Linked DNA regions of Homo sapiens: region 1 is linked to region 2. The links come from fine-mapping of genetic effects on gene expression. A gene starts in region 2. The other region holds a variant in brackets. All regions are shown on one strand. Distances are from middle to middle. Region 1 overlaps ZFP1 (ZFP1 zinc finger protein). Region 2 holds the start of ZFP1 (ZFP1 zinc finger protein).

Region 1 (5,381 bases), 23 kb before region 2:
AGCAACAGTTTGTTTAGCATCCAGTATAATATGTCTTCCTTCTAGACAAAGGTTTGATAGATTTACTTCTAGACCACTGTTTAAGATTCAGGCTCCCTAAACTTGGACCTCCCCTCCTGTAACTCCACCCAGCAAATGTGTATTCGAGGTCAGTACAGTATGTCTTCTGCCAGTATCCATGAAACTGGTAGCTTAACTTGTTACCTTGCAAGTAGGACAAAATCTCAGACTTTTCAGTCCTTAACACTTGGCCCCTTATTCACAGCTCCTGTTTCCAAGTTTATCTTGAATCCTCCTAGATTTACCCTGACCACTCCTTTATAACTGTTTTTTTCAAAATGACCTCACTGATGGTTAATCTCAGCATATATCCAACTTCATACAAATTATTAGTATTTGATATAGTGGCCACTCTTCTACTTCAAAATAAGTGTTTTCAGCTGGCTTCAGATACCACCCTCTACTGGTTTTCACCCTAACCCTGGTGGTTCCTTCTCAGTTTCATTTGCCAGTTCCTGCCCAGCAAACACTGGGGTGAGTGCTCGGGGCTCAGTCCTTGACATTCTTTATACTTTTTTTTCCTAGGTAATCTCACCTAGCTTTATGGCTTAAAATATTATCCCTGTGACAACTCCCAAATTTTTATTTCCTCTGAAATTGGGCTTCAGAGTCAGTCATCTTACCTCTAAACGCATAAGAGGCATGAGACAAACAGTTGCCACTTGGAATGACCATAGGGGAAGAAGGGTCCTTCTGGGAAAGCCTCATTACAGTCGGACCAGCAAGGCTGAAACTGAGATGGGAGATTTGCTGATTGTGCTGTTTCCCCTCCTGGTCCATCCTCCATCTTTCTACCCTGCTTTATCCCAGGAGGACGGCATCACCCGGGCTTCTGATTAGGTTCAGTTGATGGAGGCATCTTCAGGAGACAGCAATAAAGAGCTGAGGCTTTTCCCCCTCTGCTCCCTTTCCTGACAGTTCTGTGTTTCTCACAGTAGCTGCATCTTTGTAGAGCTTCAACATCCACTTAAGAGACACTCTTCCTTTTTATTTTTCTATCTCCTACAGGAAAGAGACCTTCCAACATTTTGGCTCTCACTGGGCTCTGAAACACCATTTCTTCCTTTGGTCCCTAGGGAGACAACAGCTTCTTGGCACTGCTGGTCTCTGGATTCCTTACCATCCGTTGTTTGTTCCCTTAATCCTTCTCTCATTCTCCAAGTCATCCTTTCATAAGGCGCTAATTCAGTTTACTGCTAAAGCCCTCACTGATAAAGCTGGTGAGGTCCACAGGTTAAAAATGGAAGGAATTCTATTCACCAGGCCCATAAAATCATATACAAAGACACACATATATAAGGGTTTATCTTTATTTTATAAAAACTGCTACACACACACATACACTCTCTCTCTCCCCTCTTGCTTTCCTCATTTGACCTAGAGAAGTTTGGAGTTTGTTCCCACACATTCTTTTCAAGGAAATACCATTCAGCCATGGTATGTTTTTACCACAATTTATTCATCCATTCCCTTACTGATGGTCTTTTTTTTGTTTGTTTTTTTGGTCCTTACCAAAAAATACAATATACATTAGTAAACATATAATCTTAAGTGCTGGCGCTTTTTATTCCTTAGGGATAGATTCCCAGGAGATTCCTAGGTTGTAAGAGTATATTAATGTTAAAACAGACTCACAATGTTGTCCAAGGAGGCTGTTACAATTTACATTTCTAAAAGCAGCTATGAAAATAACGTTTTCCCCTCCTTTGTGAGTAAGTAAGATGACAACTTAGACAAAAGCTTATTGGGCTATGGATGTTCTGGATAAATTTGTTCAGAAAGTCACTCAATATATAGTGTGACAGCACATCAATGATATCCAAAAATATTTTTTAAAAGCCAGTTTTTGGTTGCCATTTATAATTTCCAATACATGATTTGTGATTGATAGGGAAAGGCTGAACTTAAGAATTTGAAATCAAGTCTATAAAAGCAAATCTTTGAGTTACACAACAATTCTTGTTAATATCTGGAGAGACCACTGAAAAATCTGATTTTTATAAAAGTGTAAACATGTAAAGGAAAAGTAATAACTTATAACTCATGTTCCAAAGGGAAATGTTTTAGGTTGGCAACAGCAAAACTCAAGGAAGTAGAAATGCCTCCTTTAAACAACAAAATAGTGTAAAAATTTACTTCTAAAGGGGGTTATGCACGTGAAAAATTTAAAAAGCAATGAAACAGTTGACAGTTATTTAAAATAATTTTTCCTCTAAAGTCTCTGAAATGTAACATTTGTGAACTACAGAAGCATCCTACCATTTTTGCTAGACAATTCATGAAATATTAAGGGAAACAAGGAAAGACAAAAACAGGTGGTTTCTGTCTGTGTTACACAATATTTTGGTAACAGACATGCATTTGTATGCAAATATCCCACGGGAAAATAAGAGCATGACGAATGGGGATATTGTCTTTACACGGCAAACTCTTATTCTGTGGTGCATACTGAGTAGTACAGCTCATGTCTGCCTCCTTCACGTTATAGATCGGTTATTTCACATTTGCATATTTGTGTAAATAGTGCTTCTAGAAAATCTTCAGCAAACCAGAAGCAGGGAAAACTTCAACACTGTCTTCTGTTTCCTAAGAGGCAGCTCAAGAACAATGTTCATACCAACTGATATATGCCAGCAAGCAGTAGGGAAAGACGTAGGTTCCATGCTACTTTAAATGTTACACATTTCATTTGGAATGCATACTGGATTGCAGAGATACTGAAAAACACATGTGATGTTTAGTATGGAAAATCTTGTTATGTCCTAATTATCACAGAGGACAAGAATTTCAAATTCCCAGTGATTATGCTAAATTCACATGTGCAGATCTAAAGCATACCACTTGTGTTTTGTGGCATATCCACATAAAACCACTAAATTCATAGGATACTGTTTGTATATTTCTTATGCTGCTGTCTAGAATACTCAATTCATTCAAGATTTTAAAAAGCTCATTGTAGTACAACTGGGTATGGCTATTTACAACTGGATATATTCTGATATGTATTCTTTAGCTGGGTATCACATGTAACTTCCAGTATAATGTTCTCATGGGATCCTATTTTTAATACATTTTTGAGTTGAGAGATTGCATCTCAGTAT[G/A]AATTCCCATGTTCCCTCAATACTGTCATGAGGTTTTTCACCCGCTTGAAGAGTTCTGGCAGGAGTTTTCCACAGTAAGACCTGGCTGGAGTTTCAGGGTTTCTCCCCGATGTGAACTCTCTGATGGACACTGAGTCGGGACTTCCTGCTAAAGGCCTTCCCACATTCGGAACACTCATATGGTTTCTCTCCTGTGTGGATTCGCAAGTGTAATCTAAGAGTTGACCTCTGGCTGAAAGTTTTGCCGCACTCAGTACATTCATAGGGTTTCTCTCCTGTATGAGTTCTCATGTGTATGATGAGCTGTGAGTTCTGGATAAAGGATTTTCCACATTCACTGCACTCATAGCGTTTCTCCCCCGTGTGAATCTTCTGATGTATGATAAGGTTTGACTTCTTAAAGAAGGTTTTTGCACATTCGTTACACTCATAGGGTCGCTCTCCTGTATGAATTCTCTGGTGTGTGGTGAGTTCAAACTTTTGGGCAAATGTCTTTCCACATTCACTGCACTCATAGGGCTTCTTCTCCATATGTGCTCTCTGGTGTACAATGAGGTTTGACTGGTGGGTGAAAGCTTTTCCACATTCCGGACACTCGAAAGGTTTCTCCCCAGTGTGAATTCTCTGATGTTTGATGAGGTTGGCCTTATGGGAGAAGGTTTTCTTACATACATTGCATTCATATGGCTTTTCTCCAGTATGTATTCTCTTATGACTAATGAGGAGTGACTTAAAGGAGAAAGCCTTGTCACAGTAAGTACAAATGAAAGGTTGAACCAAGTTTTTTATTTTCTGATGTTTAAAAATGGCTGCTTTATGGCTGAGGGCTTTTCCACTTTTATTGTATTCAGAATATTCTACTCCACTGTGGGTTTTCTCTTGCTTCAGGTAGAGAAGTGCTTTTCCAAATTCATTACACTCATCAGTCTGCTTTCCTGCATAGCTTCTATTACTATTAAGCAAGTCTGAATTATATTTCAAAGTTTTTTCATATAAGTCATATTTATAAGGTACTTGTCTTAAAGAAACAAAGTCTGTGTTCAGATTAAGTGCTTTTCCAAAGAGATCGCCTCTTTCCTCAATTGGGGTTTGGTTCTTAAGAATTAAAAATTGCCTCGCCTGCTCGTCTGGGTTTCTGTGGTCTCTCTCCATCTGGTCATCAGCCTTCCACACTTCTAGGAATAGAGAGCACAATGAAAAGAACCTTGTCAATGCCTCCGCTATAATGTTACCGAATGGGAAGTCTTCACACGTGTTCTATCACAGGGCTGACTCTTTAGTTTGGGACCCAGTCTCCCAATATTAAAAAATTCCCAGTGCAAATGTTTCCTTTCAAACTTTGAAAGAGAAAGGTAATAGCTTGTGGTTAAAAAAACAAAACAAAACCAAAATCAATACAAGTAGCATTGCCAGATCACAAAATGACCTTAAAGTGGGCAGAGAGGGTGAAAGGAGACAGAAAACAGAACACAATATGAGAAGGCTGGCAATGCCAGGGAGGGAGATTCACAGTGTTCTTAAGGACACTGCAGTTAGCACAGAGACCGAGAAAGTAAGCAGATGAGGGAATTAAGGGGAAACACCTAAGCAGATCTCGACTAATAGTATTATTTGCTAAACTCGGACTACTATGGTAGAACCAGCACCAGTCTGCATAGTTCTAAGCTTTTTCTCCTTTTTTTCTACTGTTCATCTTTACCAAAATGATTTCCAGAGAACAGCACTTCTCATAGGTTTGCAGTGACAACCAGATAGCAGAGCTCCAAATCTCTTAAGTGAGAATCTTGCAAATGGTAAAATCCAGAAACTCATTCGCTAAGAGATACACAACCCTTACCACAGGATCACTAACTGCTGCTGGTTTTATTGCTTTTTTTTTTCTACTGAAGTTGCTGGGAGAGTGAACATGTTTTCACTATCATATCCTACTTTTCTTCCATTCCTATTTAGAGATAGGGTCTCCCTCATTTGCCCAGGCTGGAGTGCAGTGGCACAATCATAGCTCACTGCAGCCTTGACCTCCTGGGCTCAAGGGATACTCTCAATATTCCAGGCATGAGCCACCATGCCCAGCCTACTTCTTTCAATGTGTTCAGCATCTTAAGGATAAAGTTACCCAGGTTCATTAAGTCAAACAACAGATACTGGCAAGGCTAAGATACACTGTTGGTGGGAATTTAAATTAGTTCAGCCACTGTGGAGAACAGTCTGAAGATTTCT
Region 2 (5,381 bases):
AGGAGTCTACTAAAACAAAATGAAACAAAAATACAATACAAAAACAAACCACAACAAATTTAAAATAATTGAAATTCGTAACACAGTATTCTGACCAAATCAGAATTAAACTATAAATCAATAATATAAAAAGATCTGGGCCGGGTGCGATGGCTCACGCCTGTGATCCCAGCACTTTGCAAGGCCGAGGCAGGTGGATCACCAGGTCAGGAGATAGAGACCATCCTGGCTAACACGGTGAAACCCCGTCTCTACTAAAAATACAAAAAAAAATAAAAAAATTAGCCAGGTGTAGTGGCGGGCGCCTGTAGTCCCAGCTACTCTGGAGGCTGAGGCAGGAGAATGGTGTGAACCTGGTAGGCGGAGCTTGCAGTGAGCCGAGATCTCGCTACTGCACTCCAGACTGGGCAACAGAGCGAGACTCTGTCTCAAAAAAAAAAAAAAAAAGATCTGGAAAATCTCCAAAAACTTGGAAATTATGCAATACAATCTAAATAAATAAGGGTAAAAAATGAAGTCACAAGGGAAGTTAAAAAAATTTGAATTGAATGGTAATGAAAACACAATAAAAAGGCTGGGTGCAGTGGTTCATGCCTGTAATCCCAGCACTTTGGGAAGCCAAGGCGGGAGAATCACTTGAGGTCAAGAGTTCTAGAGCAGCCGGGCCAACATGGTGAAACCCCGTCTCTACTAAAAATACAAAAATCAGCCAGGTGTAGTGGCGGGTGCCTGTAATCCCAGCCAGGAGGACTGCTTGAACCCGGGAGGCAGAGGTTTCAGTGAGCTGAGTGCCACTGCACTCCAGCCTGGGTGACAGAGTGAGACTCAGTCTCAAAAACAACAACAACAGAAAAGAAAATACAAGATATAAAAATTTGAGTGATGTAGTTAAAGTAGTATTTAGAGGAACAGTTACATCAATAAATTGTGTCTGGCCGGACGCGGTGGCTCACGCCTGTAATCCCAGCTACTCGGGAGGCTGAGGCAGAGCACTACTTTAACCCAGGAGGCGGAGGTTGCAGTGAGCCGAGATCAAGCCACTGCACTCCAGCCTGGACGACAGAGCGAGACTCCGTCTCAAAAAAAAAAAAAAAAAAAAGAAAGTAAAGAAAAGAAACGGTACAATACAAAAATATAGTATTACAATCACATAGGACCACCATTTTACATGAGGTCCCTCGTTGACAGAAACACTGTTACGCAGAGCGTGACTGCACCAGAATCATGGGAAAACTTTCGTATTTCAAAGTAGTGAAGAATTTTGGGTGCCCCAAACGGAAAGAACAGTAAATTCCACCCGAGAGAAATTTAAAACGTCAAAACGTATACATGGCAAAATCTACCAGCGAGTAAAATCAAAAGATAAATGAAAAAATATCTGCTGCTCACATAAAGTACCACCGGGTTGTGAGACCTTAGGGAAATCACTTTCCCCTTCTGAACCTCCCGTGTTCCTGGGATAGCGACGGAGATGATAACGCTGGAAGTCACGGGGTGGATGCGAGGATCAGGGGAACACCTCACTGAAGACCCTCTGACAAAGGGATCACGGTTCTCCTTCACCACCGGCAACTGACCAGGCTCCAGTCCTTCCTCCACCCACGAGGCACCGGGCATCGGGGCGTGGCCAGGTGTGTCAGGCCACGCCCCCACCACGCCCCGGCGGGGCCTCGTCCCGCGCGCGCGCGCCCGCCGGGGCTCCAGAACTCGCTCCCGCGCGGCCCGAGCCCTTCGCCGCCCGTCTGAGGCGCATCTCCTGACAAAGAGAAGAAGGCGAAGCCTCATAGCCGCCCTTCCCTCCGCCGTCCCCGCCCCCGCACGTTCGGCCAGGCGTGCCCCGCCGGCCCCGTTCAGAGGCGAGCGCCGGGCAACCCCGGACGCCGCCCTGAGGGTCACTGCCGCCTACGAGTAGCCGAAGTTTGGGCTCCCACCCTGCGCGGGCACGAGCCCATCCCTCATCTCCTTCCCCTCGGCCCCAGGCCGCGCGGAGCTACCTGGAAGCCCCTCTCGTACCTGGAGGGGCGCAGCCTCCACTCGTGGCCCAGTGCCACAGCGGGTCACGGCGCAGGGCGGCGAAGACGCGCGGAGACGGGGGCTCTGTCACCCACTCGCCGCTGGTGGTGGGGGAAGGGCGGCCACCGGCGCGCTCGCAGCACTGCACATGCGCAGAAACAGGGGCGCGGGCCGTTCCCAGGGTCCTCGGAGGGGTGGACCATCCACGTTCGGGACTACATTTCCCACAAGCCTCCGGGGCCGCGGCTTTAGGGACTCTCAGGAAAGTCTTCGCCTTGTTAGGCGGTCTGATGAGCCGACCAAAATAATCTCCTTAGCCTGCACTGTTTTCTTTTTTCCCAGAGTGGGTCGTGAACTACAATTCACCACCTCCCCCTTAAATACAACAACTTGGCTTTTAAACATTACACAAATAATCTATAACTGTATTTAATTAGAATATATGTACAAAATAAAGTATCCATAATCTCACTTTCTAAAGATTAACTGCGTATAACATTAAGTTCGCACTTTGATTTTTTTGTTGTTGTTACAAAACTGGCCATAAAGGTATCATGTGCTGCAACTAGCTTTTTTCCCTTTTTTCCCAGGCCACTTTGTTGAGGTATATATATTTGTTGAGATCTATATATTTAAGATGTACAACTTGATATCTACATTTGTGAAATATTCACCATAATCAAGCTAATTAACATGTGCATCACCTCACATAGTTATTTGTCTGATGAGAACACTTAAGATCTATCTTCTTAGCAAATTTCAAGTACACAATATTGTCAACTATCGTCACATAGCTGTGCATCTCCCCAGAACTACTCATCTTGCATAACTGAGACTTTGTACCCCTTGACCACCATCTTCCCATTTCCCTTCACCCTCAGTTCCTTTCATCCTTTAGAACAGTTTTAGGTTCACAGCAAAATTTGAGCAGAAAATACATTGAATTCCCATATAACCCATGTCCCCCCAGCACACACAACCTCCCCAAAGTTGATATCCCACACCAGAACAGTGTATTTGTTACAATTGGTGAACCTACAGTTAAATATCAGCACCTGGCCAGGCTCAGTGGCTCACACCTGTAATCCTAGCACTTTGGGAGCCTGAGGCAAGCAGATTGCTTGAGCCGAGGAATTTGAAACCAGCCTGGCCAAAATGGTGAAACCTCATCTCTTAAAAAAAAAAAAAAAATACAAAAATTAGCCGGGCATGGTGGCACGCACCTGTAGTCCCAGCTACTCGGGAGGCTGAGGTGGGAGGATCACTTGAGCCTGGGAGGCTGAGGTTTCAGTGAGCCAAGATTGTGCCACTGCACTCCAGCTTGGGTGACCCTGTCTCAAAAAGTATAAATTAAAAAACAAAATCATTGGCACCCAAAGTCCATAGCTTACATTAGTGTTCACTTGATGTTGTACATTCTATGGGTCTTGACAAATGCCTGTAACCATTACAGTATCGTACAGAATAGTTTCACTGCCCCCCAAAAAATCATCTGTGCTCCATTTATTCATCCATCCCACAACCCCTGGAAATCTCTGATATTTTTACTGTCTCCATAGTTTTGCCTTTTGCAGGTTGTCATATAGGTGGAATCATACATATGTTGCTTTTTCAGATTGGCTTCTTTCATTTAGTAATATACATTTAAGTTTCCCTCATGTTTCCCTCAAGTTACCCTGGCTTTTTTTTTTTTTTTTTTTTTTTGACACAGGGTCTCACTCTGTCACCCAGGTTGGAGTGCAGTGGTGCGATCATGGCTCACTGCAGCCTCCACTTCCTGGGCTCAAGTGACCCTCCCAGTTCAGCCTCCCAAGTAGCTAAAACTACAGGCATACACAGCCATGCCTGGGTAATTTTTTGTATTTTTTGTAGAGATGGCATTTTGCCATGTTGCCCAGGCTCGTCTCAAACTCCTGGGATCAAGAAATCCTCCTGCCTTGGCCTCCCAAAGTGCGGGGATTATAGGGATGAGCCACTGTGCCCAGCCTCAGTTCGTTTTAGTGCTGCATAATATTCTACTGTCTGCATGTACCAGTGTTTTAAATCCATTCACCTACTGAAGATACATTGGTTGCTTCTAAGTTTTGGCAACTATGAATAAAGCTGCTCTAAACATCTGTGTTCAGGTTTTGTGAGGATATAAGTTTCCAGTTCATTTGGGTAAATCGTATGGTTGCGGCCGGGTGCAGTGGCTCACGCCTGTAATCCCAGCACTTTGGGAGGCCGAGGCGGGCGGATCACGAGGTCAGGAGATCGAGACCATCCTGGCTAACACAGCGAAACCCTGTCTCTAATAAAAATACAAAAATAAAAATTAGCCGGGCGTGGTGGCGGGCACCTGTAGCCTCGGCTACTTGGGAGGCTGAGCCAGGAGAATGGCGTGAACCTGGGAGGCGGAGCTTGCAGTGAGCCGAGATTGCACCAATGAACTCCAGCCTGGGCGACAGAGCGAGACCCCGTCTCCAAAAAAAAAAAAAAAAATTAGCATGGTTGCTGGATTGTGTGGTAACAGTATGTTAATGAGACAGGAGAGTTCCCTGGACCCCTTCGCGGGACTTGTCGTGGCTAGCTTACTCAGCCACTGTGCTAAAACCCCTTATGGGAGGGGGAGCACAGAGGCAAGTGGGTGCCAGGGCCAGGGTGAGCACCTTTGGGCTCTGGCCCCATGGTAGCATCTAGGGGTGTGTTACAATTAATGCTCTTCTAGCAGTTGCCATCCATGGACAGCTAAGCGTTAACCAGCTCAGTGGAGAGTGAGGGTGACAGCCTTTTACACCCTGCCCTCTTAATACCCAGGTCCTTGTCCAGCATCCAGAAAGGATCAGGTCACATGGACTTGAAGAATGGTAAATGCAGAGGTTTTATTGAGTGAGGGAGGTGGCTCTCAGCAGGATGGGGAGCTGGAAAGGGGATGGCGTGGGAAGATAATCGTCCCCTGGAGTTCTGCTGTCCCTGGCCAAATTCCTCTCTGACCATCCAGCTACCTCTTCAATGCTCAATTGCTTCTTCTCTTTTCTCCTTCTCCACCACCTTGCTCTGCAGCTCTGCCCCTCTGCCCCTCTGCTGCTCTTCTGTTTGTGGAGCCTGGGATTTGGGGTTCTTATGGGCACAGGATAGAGAGCAGGGTGGGCCACAATGGTCTTGGAAAAGGCAACGTACAGGCGTGAAAACAGGAATGCCTGTTCTCATTTAGGGCCATGGGTCCAAGCTTGAGGGTAAGAACCCTCACCAGGAATCCCGCCCTCCTGCCTCCTGTCCATATCATTAGTTTTGTAAGAGACTGCCAACACTGTCTTCCAAAGTGGCTGCATCATTTTGCACCCACCAACAATGAATAAGAATTCCTGTTGCTCCAATTTCTCACCAGC

The links. PIP is the estimated chance that this variant, and not a neighbour inherited with it, causes the effect. A credible set is the group of variants that fine-mapping cannot tell apart.
Region 1: its variant is the best candidate, but not a certain one, in a credible set for the expression of ZFP1 in prefrontal cortex (GTEx, PIP 0.52).

Annotation. Positions count from the first base shown.
Region 1 is chr16:75,168,208-75,173,588 of GRCh38, reverse strand. It overlaps ZFP1 (ZFP1 zinc finger protein), which reads right to left. Exons shown (of 4, transcript NM_153688.4): 4 at 1,355-4,336. The coding sequence ends at 3,255. Among named protein-coding and RNA genes, the nearest start is that of ZFP1, 22 kb to the right of the region's middle. The variant G/A (reference allele first, on the strand shown) is at 3,162.
Region 2 is chr16:75,145,276-75,150,656 of GRCh38, reverse strand. ZFP1 (ZFP1 zinc finger protein) reads right to left here and starts at 2,133. Exons shown (of 4, transcript NM_153688.4): 1 at 2,014-2,133. RefSeq lists a silencer at 1,543-1,912 and an enhancer at 2,273-2,322.